Homo sapiens: one gene and its partners. The protein of the gene in region 3 purifies or fractionates together with the protein of the main gene of each other region. This does not show direct contact. Each region holds a gene or a part of one and is shown on either strand. Other genes may lie near its edges. The genes, in order: RMND1, SERPINB8 and CR1L.

Region 1 (3,654 bases), on a different chromosome or scaffold from region 3:
TGTTTTGGAAGGATAGTTAATAAAAAGGAGAACGTTCACAGTAAATTTCTATGTGAAAAAATGCTGCATATAAAACTATATATGGAGTGTAATCTAAAATCACACTGACATGATGGGGTTGGGGAGGGAGGCAAGGAAGTTGTGAAAAATGAGTATGTGACTGTGGAGAATCCTAGACAGGGGACAGGGGAAGAGCGGAATGTGTGAATATAAACATCACAAGCAAATGGAAAAAAGACAGGGTAAACCTTCACAAAAGATGTCAGACAAGAAGTGACGGCCAAAGGGAGGGGGACAAGGGGCCTGATGGAGGGCGGCATCTGCTATGACAGCCTCAGATGGAGGAAGGAAAGCAAAGACAGCAGTCACAAGAGGTCTTTTTTTTTGAGACGGAGTCTTGCTCTGTCACCCAGACTGGAGTGTAGTGGCGTGATCTTCGCTCACTGCAACCTCCGCCTCCTGGGTTCCAGCGATTCTCCTGCCTCAGCCTCCTGAGTAGCTGGGATTACAGGAGTGCACCACCACATCCAGCTAATTTTTATATTTGTAGTACAGACAGGGCTTCACCATGTTGGCCAGGCTGGTCTTGAACTCCTGACCTCAAGTGATCTGCCCGCCTTGGCCTCTCAAAGTGTTGGGATTACAGGCATGAGCCACTGTGCTTGGTCACAAGATGCTTTATGAGTAAACTGGGCCCATGCCACAGAGCTGAGCAGATCCCTGGAATCATGGCAGAACTCACATAATAACCATGTAGGTGGCAGCCAGGACAGTCTTTCTGACGAAACAAAATAACTGACTCTGGGATCCTAAGCACTGAGGATTTTACTCCTCACAGACTGTACAGTAACGTGTGTGTGTGTGTGTGGATAAGCGTACACACACACACACACAAGGGTCTAGCAGTAGTTGGATATGGAAGTATTTGGTTGGTGCAAAAGTAATCGCGGTTTTTGCCATTTTAATGTAAACCTAATAGAACACAGAAAGGGGATTCACAGGAGCTGTATCTGCAGGCCAAGGGCTGAGTAACTACTAAAGATAATAAAACTACAGGCTGCTCATTTGCTGTCTCTCTCAGGTTTATATCCTTACCTCTGACTGCAGCCACCACTGGGCTCAGGCTGACTCACAGTCAGGTGCCCTTTGGCAAGACAGGATTCAATAAATCTCATCGGAAAGCCAGTTAGCTGCAATTATAGGGTTTTCCCCAGGATTAAATGAAATAATACATGGAAGGCACTTACTTAGAAAACCGTGACTGGCCCTATTGGTGGTGAGCGCTGATTACTCAGCTCTTATCCCCATCTGGTCTTTCTATAGCTAGTCTCTGTCTCTCTTCCAAGTCTTCCCAAAGCTCTGCTTTTAACGCTTTTTTTTTTTTTTTGAGACAGAGTCTCACTCTGTTGCACAGGCTGGAGTGCAGTGGTGCGATCTCAGGTCATGGCAACCTCTGCCTCCCAGGTTCAAGCAATTCTCTGCCTCCGCCTCCGCCTCCCAAGTAGCTGGGATCACAGACACTCGCCACTATGCCCGGGTAATTTTTGTATTTTTAGTAGAGATGGGGTTTCGCCATGTTGGCCAAGCTGTCTTGAACTCCTGACTCAGTTGATCCTCCCACCCTGGCCTCCCAAAGTGCTGAGATTACAGGTGTGAGCCACCAAATCTGGCTAACACTACCTTTCTTAAGAACCTGCAAAGACTCATATTTCACTAGACAGGTAACTCCATGAGGAAAAAGACACTACCATCTTGTTCATACTGCCTCTGTCTCGGCCCTAACATCTCTTCATTTTTTCCCTCTGGCTGAGTCAGGAAAATCAGCTAGTCTGTTGCCTACCCATTTATCTTAGTGAAACTGGTACACCAGGTCCCACTTCTTCCAGCACCCACACTTCTACAAGTGGGTCTCTTAGATTGACCCCTCACTATACTTCCTTTTCATACCCCCACCCCCCAAAATCAATAGGAAAAAACTGGATTAAGAGAAAAATTTACTGGAATAATTTGATAGGTTCATTTGATAAATGCATACTATTTTATTGGATTAGGCTGATTAGAAACTTAACATTTCCATTTTGGGGCTATACTACTGACTTGTTTTAACTTGTGGATAGCCTGAGAAGTTCAAAAAATTATGTTTATCTTCTAATATTTATTATATGGTTTAGACTTTGTATTTGTACCAGTAATCTTTTTCCTCTTTTTTTTTGAGACGGAGTTTCACTCTTGTCACCCTGGCTGGAGTGCAATGGCGTGATCTCGGCTCACTGCAACCTCCGCCTCCCAGGTTCAAGCAATTCTCCTGTCTCAGCCTCCCGAGTAGCTGGGATTACAAGCACCCGCCACCATAACCAGCTAATTTTTGTATTTTTTAGTAGAGATGGGGTTTCACCATGTTGGCCAGGCTGGTCCTGAACTCCTGACCTCAGGTAATCCACCTGCCTCAGCCTCCCAAAGTGCTGGGATTACAGGTGTGAGCTACCACGCCTGGCCACTTTTTTCTTAAAAGTAAGTTTCCAGGCCAGGTCCAGTGGCTCACGCCTGTAATCCCAGCACTTTGAGAGGCTGAGGTGGGCGGATCACCAGGTCGAGATCCAGACCATCCTGGCCAACATGGTGAAACCCTGTCTCTACTAAAAATACAAAAAATTAGCTGGGCGTGGTGGTGCACACCTGTAGTCCCACTTACTCAGGAGGCTGAGGCAGGAGAATTGCTTGAACCCGGGAGGCAGAGGTTGCAGTGAGCCGAGATTGTGCCACTGCACTCCATCCTGGGCGACAGAGTGAGACTCCGTCTCAAAAAAAAAAAAAAAGTTTCCATATGCATAATAATTTGTCTCCTCTATTGCTTTACCTAATTTATTCCAAGTGCCCCTTTCATAAATTTGATGAAAAGTTGCTTACTCTATTTTTATGTAGTTAAGTTCTTCATTTTCCCAGTGTACCAGTGCGATTTCATAGGGCTGAATTTCATGTTTTTCTAGAACTTTCATCACATGCTTCATCTAGAAGAAAAGGAAGATTAATCTGAAATCATAACTGACTCCCTCAGTTCAAGTATGTTATGATTTTAATGCTTATAACAGTCTTCATTACACTTACAGGCATTATTTCTGTTGCATGTTTTTAAGGAAAAGGCAAATCAAATCCATTGTGATATTAAAGTAATCAGGATGACATGTTCATTTGTTTTTACATTTGGAAAACACAGATGAGAATGGAGAAGAAAATCAAGGTTATCATTATCCCACAACCCAAGGAAAATCACTAGTAATATTATAATTTGTATTCTTTAAATCTCTTTAATAATCCCAGCATTTTGGGAGGCAGAGGCGGGTGGATCCTTGAGCTCAAAAGTTCAAGACCAGCCTGGGCAACGTGGCAAAATCCTGTCTCTACAAAAAAATACAAAAATTATCTGGGTGTGGTGATGTACACCTGTAGTCCCAGCTACCTGAGAGGCTGGCTTGAGCCTGGGAGGTGGCGGTTGCAGTGAGCCAATGTCAGCCGGTGTGACAGAGCAAGACCCTATCTCAAAAAAATAAATAAATAAAAAATAAAAAGTAAAGCCCAACATACTAATAAAAAATTAAGCCACACAGGTGTGGGAGGTGATCATCTCTTTCTCTCTTCTGTACTGAAATCCTAATC
Region 2 (3,654 bases), on a different chromosome or scaffold from region 3:
TAAAAGAATGCTTATTTCCCCACAAATTGCAATAAACTCTCATATTCTTTATAGGTAAGATTTCAGAGGTACTGGATGCTGGGACAGTCGATCCCCTGACAAAGCTGGTCCTTGTGAATGCCATTTATTTCAAGGGAAAGTGGAATGAGCAATTTGACAGAAAGTACACAAGGGGAATGCTCTTTAAAACCAACGAGGTAGGGAAAGATTTTTCAGATATACTGCTACTTTCTTAAAGTAATATTACAGGAAATATTCTCTTGGAAAAATGAATAATTTATTTGACATGATCTTGATTTTAATCTATTTCTGAATTATATTATATTATTTTATTTTCTTTGAGACAGGGTCTCTTTTTGTCACCCAGGCTGGAGTGCAGTGGTGTAATCTCAGCTCACTGCAGCCTCGACCTCCCAGGCTCAAATGATTCCCCAACCTTAGCTTCCCAAGTAGCTGTGACTACAGGTGCACACCACCAGGCCTGGCTAATTTTTGTATTTTTTGTAGAGATAAGGTTTTGTCATATTGCCCAGGTTGGTCTCAAACTCCTGGCCTCAAGTGATACACCTGCCTTATCCTCCCAAAGTTCTGGAATTACAGGCAGGAGCCACTGTGCCTGGCTTCTTTTCTGAATGAATTTAATGCCTCCTGTGTATCTTTAATGGCGGAAGGAAGAGAGAAACAAAAATAATTTTGGTATTGATAGTTTTGTTTTTCCATCTTTGATCAAATCTACCTTCCATCTCTGGTCATATGATTTGGATTGGAGGAGAATTTCTTCTAAGCCTTGGAATTATGTTTGCATGATGCTATTACTCTCTGTATTTAGTTAGATACCTTTTTGCAATATCAGTGGCAACTATGCCTATTTATTGCCTTAAAAGTCAAAGTTATACAATCCTGAGCACAAGAAAAAAAAGTTAGCAGATGTAAAGCCTAACTTTACCTTCCCTTTTGAATATTAAAATGGCTGGTATCAATAGTTGTTAGCTTGGGATTTGACATCCATCAAATATGATACTCTCATATTGCACAAAGATATGAAAGTTAAAAATATATTTGATGCAGGCTTTAAAAACAGCAGACCTTACACATCTCTTCAAGGTCCCCTTCCTAAGAAAGCCAAGGCCATAAAACCAATTCTACAACAAGGCAACTTTCCAGAGTTTGGACCGTACATCTTTTCTAACCAGATCCTTCAGCCCAAGGGCCTGAATATTTATCTTAACTTCGATAAAGAATTTTTAGTTGGAAGCTTCCATGAGAAAGCTTCTCTGTGAATGTTCTCAAAAAAGCAAACACAGCTTCTTCCAAGGATAATGTCAATTTTTGTGTCCTTCTCCATTTACCAAACTGTTTTTTTTTTCTCACCTGGTAATATTTGATCTGCTGGAACAATAGCTTGTTCTATTCAATACTAAGATGTACTAATGAAGATTTTATATCTATCAGCATAAATGTGCAGAAACAGTAATTATACACACCTAGAGTTTCTGTGAGTTAGATATATCCTATTTTTAGTAAATTATACCCACTTTTCAGTAATCGAACTTTAATTTTTCCGTTAGGAAAAAAAGACAGTGCAGATGATGTTTAAGGAAGCTAAGTTTAAAATGGGGTATGCGGATGAGGTACACACCCAGGTCCTGGAGCTGCCCTATGTGGAAGAGGAGCTGAGCATGGTCATTCTGCTTCCCGATGACAACACGGACCTCGCCGTGGTAAGCTCCAGGCAATGAGCCTGAGTATCTGTGGAGTCCAGCTGAGCTCATTTCTTTATGTTCATCTACCAATTGGCATTTGAGGAGTTTCCAGTTGGGGTTATTACAGGCAGTGCTGGGTGAACATCATTGTGTGTCTTTTGATGAACATGTTCATGCATTTCTGTTGAGTGTATACATATATGAGTGGACAAGTTTTGATGAAGCTAAGAAGAGAGAGTTCTAAATATATTATTATTTGGAATATTATTCTTTATTCTGCATGGAAGGTCTATTTGAAAGCCCAATGATTATTGCACAAAAGTCCTGGAAGAAGGGTAGGGATCAATCTTGGCAGTGATTCTCAAACACTAATGCACATATATGATTCTAGTGATCTTGTTAAAGTGCAGATTTTGATTCAATGGAGTGTGGCCTGAGATGTTGCATTTGTAACAAGATTCCAAGTGATACAGATGCTTGGAACCACACTATGAATAGCAAAAGTCTAAAGTACAGGTGGGAAATTTACCTTATACAAGAGGAGAGAAAAGTCTTACTGTGACAGAAAAGGAACAGAGTCCAGGAAGGGAAGTGGTAAACTTGCAAGGTAGGAGGTGCAAGACTAATAGTGCACTTGTAAACCAGCTCTGGGAGGTGGGAGAAGCCTTCATTTATAAAGTTTGCTGATTCTCATGACATGGTAAATACTCCCACCATGGCCGACTTTAGTCTACTGAGGGTTTAACAATTGATAGGGGTCAGCTCTGGCACACCAATGCACAGGATGTTGAGGGTGGGCTGCTTGATTTTCCTGGCTTCCCTTTGGAATCAGAAAGCTACTGCCCTAAGTCAGGGATGACATCTGTTGTGGCCACTTATGAGAAAATTAGGAGAGTCTAGAAATAGAGTCAAAATCAAAACAATGCTCGTTGGAGAGGAGTACCCACCTGGGCTCCAGTTGTTAAAGGGAAGGGGAGATGCTAGTGGAAGGCCTTTCTCCCTTTTTTCTTTCTACCTTATTGATAAATAGAAAGAGTGATGGATCTTGAAGAATTTGAAGCTAACTCCAGGACAGGCAGAGGACAAACAAGGATGCTGATGAAGTCTTCTTGCATTCCCCATTTCTCGTCTCATGCTCCCTTCTCATGCCTCCCTTCATCTTCAGATGAAACACAATTCCCTCTCTTTTACTCTGAGTTGCCCTCTGATTTAACCCTGAATAGTCCCCTCATTAGACTCAGAAGCAGAGTTCTGAGCCATGCTCTTTGTCTTTTGTCAAACAATCTCTCCCACTCACAGTAGTATGTATTGCATGAAGATTAATGTAATGAATTGGTTAGAATTTTCTAAACTGTTAAAAAATGTTTTTAACATTTGAAAGGAGTTAGGTACAAATTGTTTTTATTAAAAATTTCTGCCTGTCTCAGGTGTTTACTAGCTCTTTTACACTTGTCTCCATAAAACTGTGAAAAGATGAAAATTTGGGAGAAAATCTTGGTGTGTTTATAAAAGAAAATATCTGTAGATTTTCTTGGACCAGAACTCACCATCTAATTGCATGTCATTGGGGGAGGGGTAATAAATGGGTGTGTGGGTATCAGGCTATTGTCATCTAAATTTTAAGGTTTGAGTCTTTCTTATCCTAGGTGGAAAAAGCACTTACATATGAGAAATTCAAAGCCTGGACAAATTCAGAAAAGTTGACAAAAAGTAAGGTTCAAGTTTTCCTTCCCAGATTAAAGCTGGAGGAGAGTTATGACTTGGAGCCTTTCCTTCGAAGATTAGGAATGATCGATGCTTTTGACGAAGCCAAGGCAGACTTTTCTGGAATGTCAACTGAGAAGAATGTGCCTCTGTCCAAGGTTGCCCACAAGTGCTTCGTGGAGGTCAATGAGGAAGGCACAGAGGCTGCCGCAGCCACTGCTGTGGTCAGGAATTCCCGGTGCAGCAG
Region 3 (3,654 bases):
TCCCTGAGGTAGCTGTTGGATTGTTTATCCAGCATGTCCTATAATAAAGCTACTATATTGCTGTGGTTTTAGAATTTTTTATTTCTGTTTTTTGTAGTTTTTTTTTTCTCCCTATCATTTCTACTGCGGCAACTCATCTTCCTCAAATTATCTGTGGGCTTGCAAAATAAGATGATGGAGACATCAAGTAAAAGCCTAAAGGGCCAACAGAATGCAAAGGCCTCTTCTATAGTGGAAGGACCAAAGTAGATAGATCTATTTTGATCTCCAAGGAGCATTTCTTTTCTTACTCCCTGGTCATGGTCCTGCCTCAGGTTGAGAGACTGGTCAAGAAAATTCTAACCAAGTGAAATCTCACCTTCATTTCATGTCATATTCTAAATTCTAAAATTCTCCATATATATACTGTCCAATATTTTCTTTATATATCATGTCCTGCAATGCACTTATTGGCAATACGTTTTCAGAGGACTTTCTTCCTATGGAAAATTTCAAACTAAACATGCCTACCCCCAGAAAAACAGTATCTTGACTTATTTTTTCTAGATATTTTATATTATAATTAATATTAAGCTACAATACTATACCTCAACAGTAGGTGCCATTATATCATAAGATAGGTGCAGTCAGAAATTTCCCCAAAGTTCCAGGTGAGTTTTAGTAAAGTGAATTATCTACACTGGGCCGGGTGCAGTGGCTCACGTCTGTAATCCCAGCAGTTTGGGAGGCCGAGGCGGGCGGATCACGAGGTCAGGAGATAGAGACCATCCTGGCTAACATGGTGAAACCCCATTTCTACTAAAAATACAAAAAATTAGCCAGGTGTAGTGGCACACGCCTGTAGTCCCAGCTACTCGGGAGGCTGAGGCAGAAGAATTGCTTGAACCCAGGTGGCAGAGGTTGCAGTGAGCTGAGATTGCACCACTGCACTCCAGCCTGGGCAGCAGAGCGAGACTCTGTCTCAAAAAAAAAAAAAAATCTACACTGCATCCACTGAACTGTTCAACTTCTGTACATTCACACCTGCTTGCAAAAAATTAACTAATGTACACGCATACCCACAGCCCTGCCCAGATTAGTATTACCAGAAATTCATGGTATTTGACTACAAGTGAAATGGCAATGAAACCTGACCATCTTGCTCCTTCTCCCACTATCCAATCTATTTAAAACCTTTTTTGCTTCCACAAAACATAAACTCTGACATCTACATATTTCAATTTTATTTCTCACTTCCCACTCATTTTTAGGTCTATGAAAATTACTTCAACTACTTTCTGAGTCATTAAAGGGCCTCCTCCTTGTTAAACTCCTCCTAACAGTCTCTTCCTTAATAGTTTGAATTACCCTCTTGATAACGTGAGAGCTACTGATCACTCTGCCCTCACTCTCTTCTGCCTGAAGAGTTCTCACTCCTTGGCTTTTAGGAGAGCAAACCACTCTGGTTTTCAGCTTGTCCTCTGGCTCATACCAAGGTAATATCCCTGATGAGTCTGTAGGAGGACTTCCTGTGATTCCATTCTGCAGGTCCCCCTGGGAGAATATATACACTTCTGTGACTTCATTACCACTGATAACCAGCTGCCTCCTAGCTGGGTATCTCTCCATCCCAGATCTCTAGCTGGGGTGCCAAAACTACATATTCAATTGCCTCCCCACACAGCTCTACTTGGAATGTGTCACTCTAGCTCAAACAACAAAGGGAGGCCCAAGAGCCACTTTTGACTCTACACACACATACACATACACACACACGCCCCCCAAACAAGTTATGTTTCCACAACTGAAATGCCCGTTTATTCTATGTAGTTGTATCCTTTACTTTTCATTCAAGCCACTATCATTTCTTATCTGGATTACCACGACATAACTAAATAGGTCTCCATACCTATCTTGCCACCTTTCATTCAATTCATTTTTCACATTACCAGAGCAGTATTTATATGACAGAGTAATCAAGGTTTTTCCAAGACAGATACCTTTCGATGGCTCTCCAATGACCTCAGGATAATGTCTAAGGCTTCCTAACATAGCTTAGAGACTTTTAAATCCCATCACAATCAGAACCCAAGAATACATTCCAGTTAGGTTGGCAGACCCAGGAGGCAGGCCAGTCAACTAGGTTCCCAGGCCACACTGCTGAACCACTACCAAACTGCTTCCCATTACTGCCATTCATCTGGAGCTCCCACATGCTGAGACCGACAAACTCTATCTGCAATTAGGTCCTCAAGAAATTGCCTACTACTGTGTCTCGGGAAATTAAAACAACCCTAGTTTGGAGTCACGTTGTGCTAAGTCAAACAAAAGGGCTCAAGCTGCCCTAAAAGGACAGGGAATAATACCAAAGTCTGAGTTTACGATGGTGATTGTTTATTCCTGACAAGCCTGTTGCTTTTTAGAACTGCTCACCCTGTGATTTATTCCTCTCCCTTCTTTGTTGTCTCCTTTACCCTACTCTGCCACACTGAATAGCTTGGCAGTCCAGCAGTGTCACATCTTGGTGCCTTTGCTCACCTTGCTTCCTCTGCTCTGAATACCCTTCCTCCCTGGCCGGTAGCTACAACTCCTGCTCAGCTCTTGTCTTCTTTAATCCACCCATCATCTCCTCCAAGAAGCATTTTCTGCCTCCCCCTGGGAAGCAGTGATCAGTCACCTTCCCCTGGACTCTCCCCTGCATGGATCTCTCAGGTAATTATCACGTGTTTTTGAGTTTAATAGTTAACAAGGCCGACTCCATTCATCCATGTGGCCACAACACCCAGCACAATATGTCCCTCATAGTAGCTATTTGAAAAAAATTTGGTACTCAAAGTCCACTGCTGTCAAACACAAAACAATGTGAAGAATATATTGTAATCAATTTCATATTGAAAATAATCATTCTACAGAACAATGGAGAAAGAAGATTTAGCCATTTCTTGTGCTGCCTATCTCCCAGTCTTCTGGTATCCTGGCAGGTGACCAGATATGGACTGCTCTTTTTGCATTGTAGTATGCCGAGTGAGGAAACTAAGAAGCAATAAGAACTTACTGGTCTTGGCTTCTTTCATTGAAAATAAGGAAAACACCTGAAATAGGCAGAAGAGACCACACACAACAGGAGATCGGGGGTTTTGTCCAAAAAAGCAGCTCCTCTTCTGGAGGAATGAATGAGACTGGCCTGAAATTTGACACATGTTTCCTTCTGCTATCTGGAACCATTTGGCAACTACCTTTGAGAGGGCAGGTCTCCCATGCACAGCACCACCTGCTTACAAAACCTTATCTTTGTGAGAGTGAGTTGCTCCAAAAATTGAATGTTTATTTTAATTCATGTATTCTCTCTGCCTAGCATCGTGAGTTCTCATTTTTACTTTCTCTAGGTTTCATACCTGTCTTGATTTAACCCTATCAACCTCAAACTTAACCTTATTTTTCCTTCTCTTCATTTTTAGTTTTGTTATCTTCCATGTTGCACCCTATTCATTTTATAATTCTATGTTCCTCTATTTCAAATTGCTTTCATTATCTTCTTCAACTTCCAGGTTTTTTTTTTTTTTCTGTGTGTGTGTGTGTGTCTGTGTGTGTGTGTGTGTGTGTGTGTGTGTGTTTGAGACCGGGTCTCACTCTGTCACCCAAGCTGGAGTGCAGTGGTATGATTAGGGCTCACTG

What was found.
Region 1: the proteins of CR1L (region 3) and RMND1 purify together in Homo sapiens (affinity purification with mass spectrometry; one large-scale study listed by BioGRID and IntAct). This does not show direct contact.
Region 2: the proteins of CR1L (region 3) and SERPINB8 purify together in Homo sapiens (affinity purification with mass spectrometry; one large-scale study listed by BioGRID and IntAct). This does not show direct contact.

What each region holds. Positions count from the first base shown.
Region 1 is NC_000006.12:151,424,575-151,428,228, forward strand, and holds part of RMND1 (required for meiotic nuclear division protein 1 homolog), read right to left. Parts: intron 3,009-3,654; coding exon 2,908-3,008; intron 1-2,907. UniProt on the Homo sapiens protein: Required for mitochondrial translation, possibly by coordinating the assembly or maintenance of the mitochondrial ribosome.
Region 2 is NC_000018.10:63,983,525-63,987,178, forward strand, and holds part of SERPINB8 (serpin B8), read left to right. Parts: intron 1-54; coding exon 55-197; intron 198-1,568; coding exon 1,569-1,721; intron 1,722-2,733; coding exon of another isoform or gene 2,734-2,742; exon of another isoform or gene 2,743-3,126; intron 3,127-3,349; coding exon 3,350-3,654. UniProt on the Homo sapiens protein: Has an important role in epithelial desmosome-mediated cell-cell adhesion.
Region 3 is NC_000001.11:207,648,113-207,651,766, reverse strand, and holds part of CR1L (complement component receptor 1-like protein precursor), read right to left. Parts: intron 1-3,654.